2 separate regions of the Homo sapiens genome follow, and region 2 is linked to region 1. The links come from fine-mapping of genetic effects on gene expression. A gene starts in region 1. The other region holds a variant in brackets. All regions are shown on one strand. Distances are from middle to middle. Region 1 holds the start of GRAP2 (GRB2 related adaptor protein 2). Region 2 overlaps GRAP2 (GRB2 related adaptor protein 2).

What was found. PIP is the estimated chance that this variant, and not a neighbour inherited with it, causes the effect. A credible set is the group of variants that fine-mapping cannot tell apart.
Region 2: its variant is the best candidate, but not a certain one, in a credible set for the expression of GRAP2 in whole blood (TOPMed, PIP 0.86).

Annotation. Positions count from the first base shown.
Region 1 is chr22:39,898,553-39,903,931 of GRCh38, reverse strand. It overlaps GRAP2 (GRB2 related adaptor protein 2), which reads right to left and starts at 2,848. Exons shown (of 8, transcript NM_004810.4): 1 at 2,602-2,848.
Region 2 is chr22:39,967,014-39,972,392 of GRCh38, reverse strand. It overlaps GRAP2 (GRB2 related adaptor protein 2), which reads right to left. Exons shown (of 8, transcript NM_004810.4): 6 at 4,121-4,351; 7 at 2,860-2,982; 8 at 1-1,488. The coding sequence ends at 1,309. Among named protein-coding and RNA genes, the nearest start is that of TMA7B, 9.3 kb to the right of the region's middle. The variant G/A (reference allele first, on the strand shown) is at 3,174.

The sequences.
Region 1 (5,379 bases):
AGTTTATTGAAACTTAATGTTAACACTGTTGAAGAGGACTTGGTGCCTAGTGCCAGGCCTGGCATATAGTAATTGATCGATAAATGTTTGTAAAATGCTTATTTGTTAAACAGGACCATGCTTTCTTAAGAATTTTTAAGAGAAAAGAAAGGGCAGGCCAGGTGTAGTGGTTCACACCTGTAATCCCAACACTTTGGGAGGCTGAGGCAGGCGAATCGCTTGAGTTCAGGAGTTCAAGACCAGCCTGGGAAACATGGCAAAACCCTGTCTCTACTAAAAATACAATATTAGCCAGGTGTGGTGGTGTGTACCTGTAGTCTCAGCTACTTGAGAGGCTGAGGTGGGAGGATCACTAAACCCAGGGTAGTTGAGGCTGCAGTGAGCTGTGATTGTGCCACTGTACTCCAGCCTGAGTGACAGAGTGAGACCCTGTCTCAAAAAAAAAAAAAAAAAAAAGACTCATGAGGCTGTGTTATTATCATTATTATTATTTATTTTTGGAGATCTGCCCACCTCGGCCTCCCAAAGTGCTAGGATTATAAGCATGAGCCACCGCGCCCAGCCAAGGCTGTGCTATTTCTTTACAGACCAAGGTATGCTGGGCAAATACCTCAAATGGACAAAATGGGGACCTAGCGACCCTATTGTTTGATTCAAACAACTTATAAAGATTCTTTAACAAGTTTTGAGTTTGTTTGATAGGGGCACAAAAATGAATCATCTGCCCCCAGGATTATCCAGCAGCAACTGTTACTTATTTAAGAAATCGTGATGGAATCACACTTACTGACACATTTTCGAACAATTGCAGACTTTTCTTGACCCAGGAAAAAAGGGCAAGTTCTACTCAAGCTTAGGCATGAACCCTGTCAGTCATCAACACCAGTGGGTGTTATTATCTGGGAATCAATAAATATGTTGGAACTAGGATCATTTTCAGCTCTTCTAGGAAGCAATAGTTCTAAAAGAGATGGCTTCAGGAAATAAGTGAGAGACATTTTGTATAAGAAGTGGGAAGAAAATGATCAAGAGTCAAAGAAACAACTAATCATGATATCGCCTTGCATTTTTATAGAGCCTTTTTCCTAAGGCACTTCATATCTATGTTAACTCATTTATTCTTACAACATCCCTACGAGGTAGACAGAACAATTGAAAGGGATTTTCACCAGGGCCTAAGATGTGGGAGATATTCAAAAGGATATTGTATTAGCAACAGAGATATTTCTTCATATTGAATAGATTGATCATCTCCTTCTCCTCTGCTTCAGTAAAGTCATTTTTAAAAAGATAAAATCTATTACAATTTGGGGAGAATAAGATTTCAGTTTACCACATGGGAGACACTCCAAGTTCAATCTAAAAAAGCAGTTTTATTCAATAATATAGGGCCACCTCTCTTTTACAAAAAAACAAAAAAGGGTATGAGTCAGATTTTTTTCGTATTTGAAAATTAAATATACTTAGGTGGTCCTCTATTTACACAGTGTTCCTTATTTAATAGCAGATGGTTTTGTAAAGAGAATCACTATAAAATTATTCTATAAAGTTTTACATAAAATACTGGATTGTTAAAGGAGAGTAACTTCTGCTAAATACTCTTTCCGAAACCAAAAATAAGAAACAAAAAGGAGCCACTAAAGAACTAAACCGTTTATGACAAACATTGCTGCATAGAACAAAAGATTCTGCGACCTGAAGTTTCCCATCCTCAGATAACATAACGAGAACACACGAAATTTTTCCCATTGGATGTTTAGATCTAAAACACTTCCCACTCCTAGTTTATCTAGGGATGTGTATGTTCAATAGTGTGCAAATTATGCTGCATACACTTTATTAAGAAGGCCTAATTCCAGGTAGATAAATACGGTAAATTTTTTTTGACAGTATACCTGTCAGGGCAATACAGTACATTTTAAATTAGTGAAACCTTTGGTTGGTATGTTCAATCCTCACGTTCAGGAAGAGTTGGGACAAAGAACACAAAGCAGCTATCTTCAGACTGGACGCCTAAACCAGAGACAGTCATAGGGATGGAGCCTAACGGCTAGTACGAAGAGAGACAATACCCTTCCAAAATACACTTCAACATAAAGTTTTCTTTTCGTAAAGGAATGAAAACTGGTGTCCTTTGTACAGGTAACAAAAATGCGAACAGAACTAGAAATTCAAGCAAAGAGAGAAATCCTGACCTCAGAGTGCTAGTGTTCATTCATCACTGCTCAGCCCTCTACCACCCCCTCCAATCCCTTCCAATTTGGATTAAATTCTGACCATGGTGAAGTGGAATTTTACCTCCATGATCCCAAGGTCGAAAATCTTTCCCTGAGATGCTTCTGAAGCCAGTTTGTGGAGATTTTTGTGTTATGGACTGGGTAAGGAACAAGTGTTCTCCCAGTTCATTTGATAGAAGTCAAATCCCATCACCACAAACATTGTCACAGCAAAAGGTTTAGAGACCTTAGCTGATGGGACTTAAAAGCAATATTTAGAGAACTAGTGAGATTCATTTTAATTAACTCATACAGAACATTCTGCAAATTATAAAACTGTTCAAAGTTTCTAGAGTATATGTACAGATGTTGTATAATGACATACCTTTTGGAAGAGAAGGGGTTGAGTTTATGTCTTGGCTTTGACACCGAGTTATTAGAATCCTTTCTGGCAAGAAGGGAGACAAATTCAAGCATCAGAGTTACTGCATTTCAGAGTATGGATCCACTTTGTGCTGTCTTCCATGTACCACTCTGAAAGAGGGTGCAAGTTTACAGATCCATTAACTGTGCCTCCTCCTCCCCACCTCTTACTCCCTCCTCCAAACTAACCCTAGTCAGCCCTGCAGTCTGTAGGCAAACCACACAGGAACTAGCACATATGGGGCTTCGGAGAGTTGGGCGTGAGCCTTAGATTATGTGGTTTTGTTTTCTTGCTGCCAGAGTTGAACTAAAATGCAGGAGGTTCACTGAAACACTTTTGCTTCTTTATGCTTGGTTTCAGTTTTAACAATATCCCCCCTGAACACTTGTGTTCACATAAGAAAATTTATAGTTCTTGATATGGTCCATCAGCAAGCTGATCTTAAGGAAAACTCTTATTCTCTTAGTATAATCATGCATCCAGAGGAACATTAGGGCTTCTTGGGGGAACTTATTTAAGAGCACCCTCGATCACTCACAATGTTAAAATCCCAGGAAAGATGCTTTGTTCATACACTCAGCCTCTAATATTACTCTTGACAAAAAAAGAAGAAACATTCTGAGCTGGGATGCATTCTCACCCCAGGTTTGCCACAGTCCAGCATGAGGTGGAACCAGTTCCTTCAATTTCTGGGACTTCAATTTCTGTTGAGTCTTAGACTGAAGGCTTTCTGGGATTTAAGACTTTCCATTGACCTTGAGTTTTGTTACCTTCAACTTCCTTAGTTCTTACCTTTAAATGTACCACTCACCCTTCCCCCTATATCAACTGCAACTTGTGAAGGCCTCTTCCTTTCTCTTTGCTCTTGCTAGAAAATGGATTGCCAACGTTGCATCTTTTACAGAAAATTAGAGACATTGCTACTTGCTAAGTGGCACCATTCAGAGTTTGGGGACTGGATCCAAGATGAGGAGGGAAATGTTGGCTCACTGGGATGTTCCTAGCATTAATCCCTGGAATACCAAGAGGAGAGTGTCAAGGAGAGATTCAATTTGGGGTTCTAAAATTTAAACTTTTTCTGCAATGTGAAACGGCATCCTTTTCCATCTCTTTGCTTCTTTATATCTAAACCTTGCTTAAAATTTACTTTCTTAAAACCTTTTCCTTGGTTATAATTGCCCAACATTTTTATTGAAATAGAAAAGAAGAATCAGCAAAGTGTCAAGGTGACAGAAAATGCTCAGTAAATATTTGTCGAATGAGTTAAAGGAAGTAATTTTCTATCCATAACTCCTTTTTTTTTTTGAGACGGAGTTTCACTCTTCTTGCCCAGGCTGGAGTGCAATGGCATGATCTTGGCTCACTGCAACCTCCGTCTCCCGAGTACAAGTGATTCTCTTGCTTCAGCCTCCCAAGTAGCTGGGATTACAGGTACCTGCCACCATGCCTGGCTAATTTTTTTTGTATTTTTAGTAGAGATGGGGTTTCACCATGTCGGCCAGGCTGGTCTTGAACTCCTGAACTCAGATGATCCGCCCGCCTCAACCTCCCAAAGTGCTGGGATTACAGGCATGAGCCACCGCACCCGGCCCTGTAGCTCCTTAATAACAGGCTTTCTTTTTATTAATGCAACTTTGTCAAATTTTCTTAAATCCTGGTTATATCTGAAAAGGATCTCTGCTATTTCCACATTATAAAGATAAAATTTAAAAATAACAACATCTTGCTACTTTAAAAATAATAACGTCTCAACCTTGACCTCAGAATTATTCAGCCTTCTAAGGACCTTCTTGGATCATTACACTGAACAGCTCTATTGCCAAGTTTTTAAATGCTGAAATCCTCTGGCTACAGTCCTTATTCTTTGATAGCTCCCAAGTCGATGGTTTTGAAATGGTTAAAGGAGTCCCTAAAATTCTATGGTTGGGGAGTGGGAGCGAAGGGAAAATGTTGAATGGTGTTACATGGAAAGTATCATGGTGTTTTCAGCTTGTACCCTAATGAGGAAGCTAATTTTGCACCAGGCACTACTCCCCAGGGAGCAGAATATAATCCTTCCCCTTACAAGCATGGGACAGATTGCAGAACAGAAAAATCTCAAAGGCAAGTTATTTTGGTAGTAAGTACTGATTGACAGACATGTTATGTAGAGCATAGTGGGAGGGAAGCAAGGCCACTTGAGTGGTTTATTTCATAACAGCTCTGTAACTGAACGAGTGCAAAGGCAGATCCTAAGAATAAAGACCCTAATGTGAGAATGCCAGCATTTCAGTACTCACTATCATGAGATACTCAGAAAAATAGCAGCAAGATGAGGAGGATACAGTAACATGTGAAATATGGACTTAGCCACAGTGGAGAAGTTTCTTTTTTAAACCATACTTTGTTTAAAATTTTTTTAATCAATTCCTTTTGAGGGGTCATTTGTTTATATCTGAACTTCTGTTTTGTTTTGTTTTTTGTTTTATTTTGTTTTTTGGAGACTGAGTCTCGCTCGGTTGCCCAGGCTAGAGTACAGTGACGCAATCTTGGCTCACTGCAACCTCCACCTCCTAAGTTCAAATGATTCTCCTGCCTCAGCCTCCCGAGTAGCTGGGATTGCAGGCACCTGCCACCACACCCAGCTAATTTGTATATTTTTAGGACAGCTGAGGTTTCGCCATGTTGGTCAGGCTGGTCTCGAACTCCTGACCTCAGGTGATCTGCCCACCTTGGCCCCCCAAAGTGCTGGGATTACAG
Region 2 (5,379 bases), 68 kb before region 1:
GTGCAAGCACACATGTGCACACCTGCAGGGGTACACACCCATACCCACAAACTCCGAGTGCACTTGGTGCAGAACGGGTTTGCACCCGGCCTCCCCTAAGGCCCTGAGCTTCCTCTCTACTGTCTCCTTCGCCCCTGGCCAGGCTGACCTGTGCTGTGCACCTCCAGAGTGAGCCCTTGGACACATGATTCTAGCGTGATGGGATGGAGAGCGACAGCCATGGTGGGGTTCCTTGCTCCAGGTGCAACTCTTGGGCAGCAGGAGGACAGCAGTGGTCAGACTGAACAGGAAGCTGGTGTCAAAGCCAGCTTCCACCTGGGGTCATGTTTAGTCAATCAATTCATAGTCAGGCTCCTATCATCAAGTGGGCTTCTTTCCATGCCACTGGGCAAGGCATCTTCAAAAGAGAAAATCAAGAGGGAAAATGAACAGAGCCCTGAAGACATACCCTTGTAACCATAAAACAATGACTGTAAAATTCAGCATTCTCAGCTAGAGCTTCTTCAAGCACTTTACGGAATGTAGGATGCTATTTCCTTCATAGCTGGGGAAACAGAGGTTCCACTGAGTAAGCTGCTTGGGGATTGTGGAAAATCCCTCGATTTCCCAGTACTTCGCTCCTCACATTGAAACATTCATTTGAAAGACCCAAGGAATATTAATTTGAACAGAGATGAATGTCTCAGCTAGGTGTTGACTAGGAGGCCAGCCTTGCACAGGCAGGGTCTCTCCAACCCCGTCCTGCCTTCACATCCCCGCTCAGACTCGCTTGGCTGCCCGCAGCACTGGGCTGCACCTTAATTCCTAATGCAACAGTGCCCACCCCTTGGAGAACAGGAGGAGAGCTGCTCTGCAAGCCCTCCAGGTGAGCGGGGCTTGCAGGTCAGCTAGAACGTGCCCCACCAAGTTCAACCCCACCCTGTTGTTCTGTGTCCAGTGCCGAGGTGTGGTCTCTGCTTAGCTGTTCTCCGTGAAAATTCCCAAGACAAGGAGGAAGCAGTGACAGCTGAAGGCCAGGACAAAACTCCATTTCATTTCCCTGCCCCCCTCCCAACTCCCCCACTGCCTTCCACACACCCCTGAGGGGGGCAGAAAAGCAAGTGTCAATATTATTCTCCACCTGAGTTCCCTTTTGCATCAACTAATTACCAGCCCAATTGCCAATAAATTACTAGTATAAAAAGTTGTGTGTGTACACAGGCAGATGTAGATAGATGTATGTATATATAGTCATGGAGTCCAGCCTTTTTTCCTTGCCCTCTTTCTTGTGGGCAGCTCCAGACAAAAAGCTTCTGTCCCCTGAAGAGTTTATCGGGTCATGGGTGCCACGTAGTTGGCAGGGAAGAGGCCCAGCTTGTTGTGCAGGCGGCCGGTCCACCAGGATGGGTTGGAGCTATCCAGGACCTCCACCACCTCCCCGCTGTGGAACCCCAGCTCGTCATCCTCCAGGGCCTCAAAGTCATACAGCGCCCGGGCCCACCGCACTCGCTGTTGGGGGAAGCACAGAAGAGGCTCTGCTGAGCTGTGGGCTGGGCAGGCAGGGGAGGGTCTGCTGGCTCCTCCCACCACATCCAAGTCTTTGAGAGCAACATTCCCTGAAGGCTGACCCCTCTGCAGCTTAAAAAAACTTTTTTTGTAGAGATGGGGTCTTGCTATGTTGCTCAGGCTGGTTTTGAACCCTTGGCCTCAAGAAGTCCTCCTGCCTTGGCCTCCCAAGTAGCTGGAACTACAGGTGTGAGCCACCATGCCCGGCTACCCTGCTGCAATTTAAATCAGATACCTATGCACAGGCCTGAGCAAGAAGTTCCCAGAACGCACCAGCGTCACTCTGGAGACCCAGGACTTTTACCAACAGATGTTATTGTCCAAAGCCCCAATAGACTCCCTGAGAACCACTCTCTCCACATCAATAGGTGGTATTTTTATCTTGAGTGACAAACAGAAGGGCAACATGCCCCAAACAACAGCCCTTGGTGTTAGGGCAATCAAGTCACAAGTCAAGATGGATCACAGGCCAGGCACGGTGGCTCATGCCTGTAATCCCAGCACTGTGGGAGGCTGAGGTAGGAGGATTGCTTGAGCCCAGGAGTTCCAGACCAGCCTGGGCAATATAGCAAGAGCTTATCGCTACAAATAATATACCTAGCTACTTGGGAAGCAGAGGCAGGAGGATCGCTTGAGCCTAGGAGTTTGAATCTGCAGTGAGCCATGATTGTGCCACTGCACTTGAGCCTGGGAGACAGAGTGAGACCCTGTCTCAAAAAACAAAAAAAAGATGCAATGATAAAGGCAATGGTAAAGGACTATGATAAAGATGATAAAGAACTAGAACTGAGAACTATGAGAACAGGGAAGGCCTGGCACCAGACTGAGATCAACAGACTGGACGGTGCTGGCTCAGCCCCAGGCCTCCCCAAACATTCCATCACCTCTCGTTGATCTGTGTGTGCATTTTTGTTTTGTTTTGTTTTGTTTTTTGAGACGGAGTTTCGCTCTTGTTGCCCAGGATGGAGTAAAATGGCGCAATCTCGGCTCACTGCAACCTCTGCCTCCTGGGTTCAAGCAATTCTCCTGCCTCAGCCTCCCAAGTAGCTGGGATTACTGGCATCTGCCACCATGCCTGGCTAATTTTTGTATTTTTAGTAGACGTGAGGTTTCACCATGTTGGCCAGGCTGGTCTCGAACTCCTGACCTCAGGTGATCCACCTGCCTTGGCCTCCCAAAGTGTTGGGATTACAGGTGTGAGCCACCGTGCCCAGCCAGATCTGTGTGGTTTGAGTCTCTCCTGCCTCATCTCCTCCATTGACCTCTGTCCCAAGGCCTTTCCCCAGGGATCCCAGAGAAGGACAGTTCCCATACCCCTGCCGCCTGGAGCTGCACTGGGTCTGTGTGTCTCCGATGCATGAGGGCCGCATTCATTTCACTGCCCAAGCCGGTGCCACAATGCCCATCATTTATGTCAAGGCTGCCTCCTCGGCGTTCCTAGAAACATACAACAGAAGACTGGTCACCCCACTGCCAGGACATCTCCCACCGGTTCCCCCAGTGCCTTGCTCAGATGCCATCCACAGAGCCGGTATATTCCAGGAATACTTACTGATAATGACAATAAACCCTCCACGTTGAGGAGGACCTAAGGTCTAAAGGCACCTTAGATTCTGAAGGCAAAGAAG[G/A]CAAAGGCAGGTTTTATTTATTCAGTCAAGAAATATTTATCAGGCACCTACCATGTTTCCAGTAGCAGACACAAGGGAAATATAGCTGGAAAGAGAAGGTCTCTGGCTTCATGGAGCTTCCATTTAGAGGGGGAACCATGCACATTTAAGTGGTAAGTGAGCAGAGAGAAGAAATGTCTGTATCTGCCCGGGAAATCAAGGAAGGCTTCACAGAGGAGGTCATGCTTGAACTCCAGCTTAGAGGGGTAGGACTGCCCAGGGAGGGGCTCATCAGGCAGAGAGATCAGCATATAAAACGCCACAAAGGCATGAGAGGAAACGCAATGGACCATTCGGGTAACTAAGGCAGCGTGGGGGGTTGCTGGAATGTGTGTTTGCACGGGGAGTTGGCAGGGAGGCAGCAGGGACGAGGCTGGGGAAATAGATTCTGGCAGCTCACAAAGGACTTTGTGTGCCCTGCTAAGGAATTCAGGAATGATGTTATCTGGCCGTATTGTCCATCTCAGTAAGCCGCCTGAAATCCCATCGGGAACAAGGGTGGAGGGAGATAAATAAGTAATAAACAAGGCTCTGTTGTGGGTATTAAGCCTTTTTCTCTTGTGGATCTGACAGCCAGATGGGCTAAGGGGCATGAATAGATTTGGAATTGTGCTGATAGGAAAATGAAGCAATTGTTTACTGGGTCCTCAGGGGAAGTGTGTGTGTGTGTGAGTTTAAGTGTGTGTGTGTGTGTGAGACAGTGTGTGTGTGTGTGTGTGTGTTCAGGTGGGAGCCATTTAATTCATAGAGATGTCTTTGCCAAGAACAGTTTCCCTATTTCTGCCATTTGGGGGGGTCCAGGGTCTTCATCATGAACTCTCTGAGAACTCAAGAGGCTGGGCCAGGCCTGGAGGGGAGGCAGGTTCTCCTTTCCACCGTACTGTGCCCACTGCCTTCTTTCCAGATACCTGGTGGAAATGGTGGTGCTGCAGATATCGCTGCTGTGGGGGCTGCTGCAGCTGCTGGGGCGCTGGGGCATATTGCGGAGGCTGTGGCTGGTGCTGGTGCTGCTGCAGGGGAAGGGTCGGGGGGTGATCCGACAGCTTCCGGTTCATCGAAGGTCGGATTTCTTCTCCCACAGCCCCACTGAGGTGTGGGCCTCCCTGGGACCTCCGGTCCAGGCTGTTGCCCCGGTGACCCTGGGAGAAAGAACAGAGATGCTGCAGATGCATCCTCCTCTCTGATCGTCTGGCCCTACCCTACCCTCGGGCAGTTGTTCCCAGACCCTGCTCATCTGGCTCCAAGAAATAGCTGGTGGGGTGGGGGCAGCTAAAAGATAATTGATGCTTTAGACCTTCACATTTTCCAAAGTGGCCTCTGCATTCTCAGATCCTCCCAGTTTTAGGAGTGCAGGTCTCTGGTTCACAGACTAACACTTTTTGCCTGGTAGCCATTTAGTCCATTTCCAGGGCGCTCGTTTTTTCTCTGTGTAATCAAGCTGAAATATTCCATTTTACTGATACAATGCCACCCCTTCTTATCACATGTTGCCACACCACTGGACAATCTACCCTCCAGATAAGCTCCACTGTTGACTTTGCATGATTTTGAACTGTCATTTACAGCCTGGTGATAGAGACCCAAACAGCAACATTCTTGCAACACCATGGGAACCAGGCCTGCCGCCGGGCTGGACGTGGGGGAAGAAGTAAGGCCTTTTTCCCTAATGTTACAACAACCTTACAAATCAGAAATACCGTATTGTTAGTTTCATTTAACAAACAATTATGTAGGACCCTGAGGGCAGCATATACCAGGCACTGTTCTAAGCGCTTTACAAATATCAACTCATTTAATCCCATTTAATGCAATTTTATATTGCTTCTCTGAATGCCCATCCTAGTGAGTTAATACCTCTGTCCGTTTCCTGGTTAGAGTGATTCACAAGGTCTTGGCTAGCCTTTGTTTTCCTTTCTGAACTTCTGTGTGCATTTGGTGGTAACTTCTTTTCTCCTTTGGCAGTAACTTCTCAGGCTTAAAAGCAACTAGGGACTCGAAAAAGGAGGATTTTCTTGACTTCCCCAAAGCACACATTGCTTTCACAGTCTCAATATCTTTTCAAATAACCTGTCCCTAGGATTTCAGCTATTCTAGTGAATGCTTCTTCCTATGATACCTGTCTCTTATAACCATGTTATTTCCTTTGAAAAATAGTTCATAAATTGGT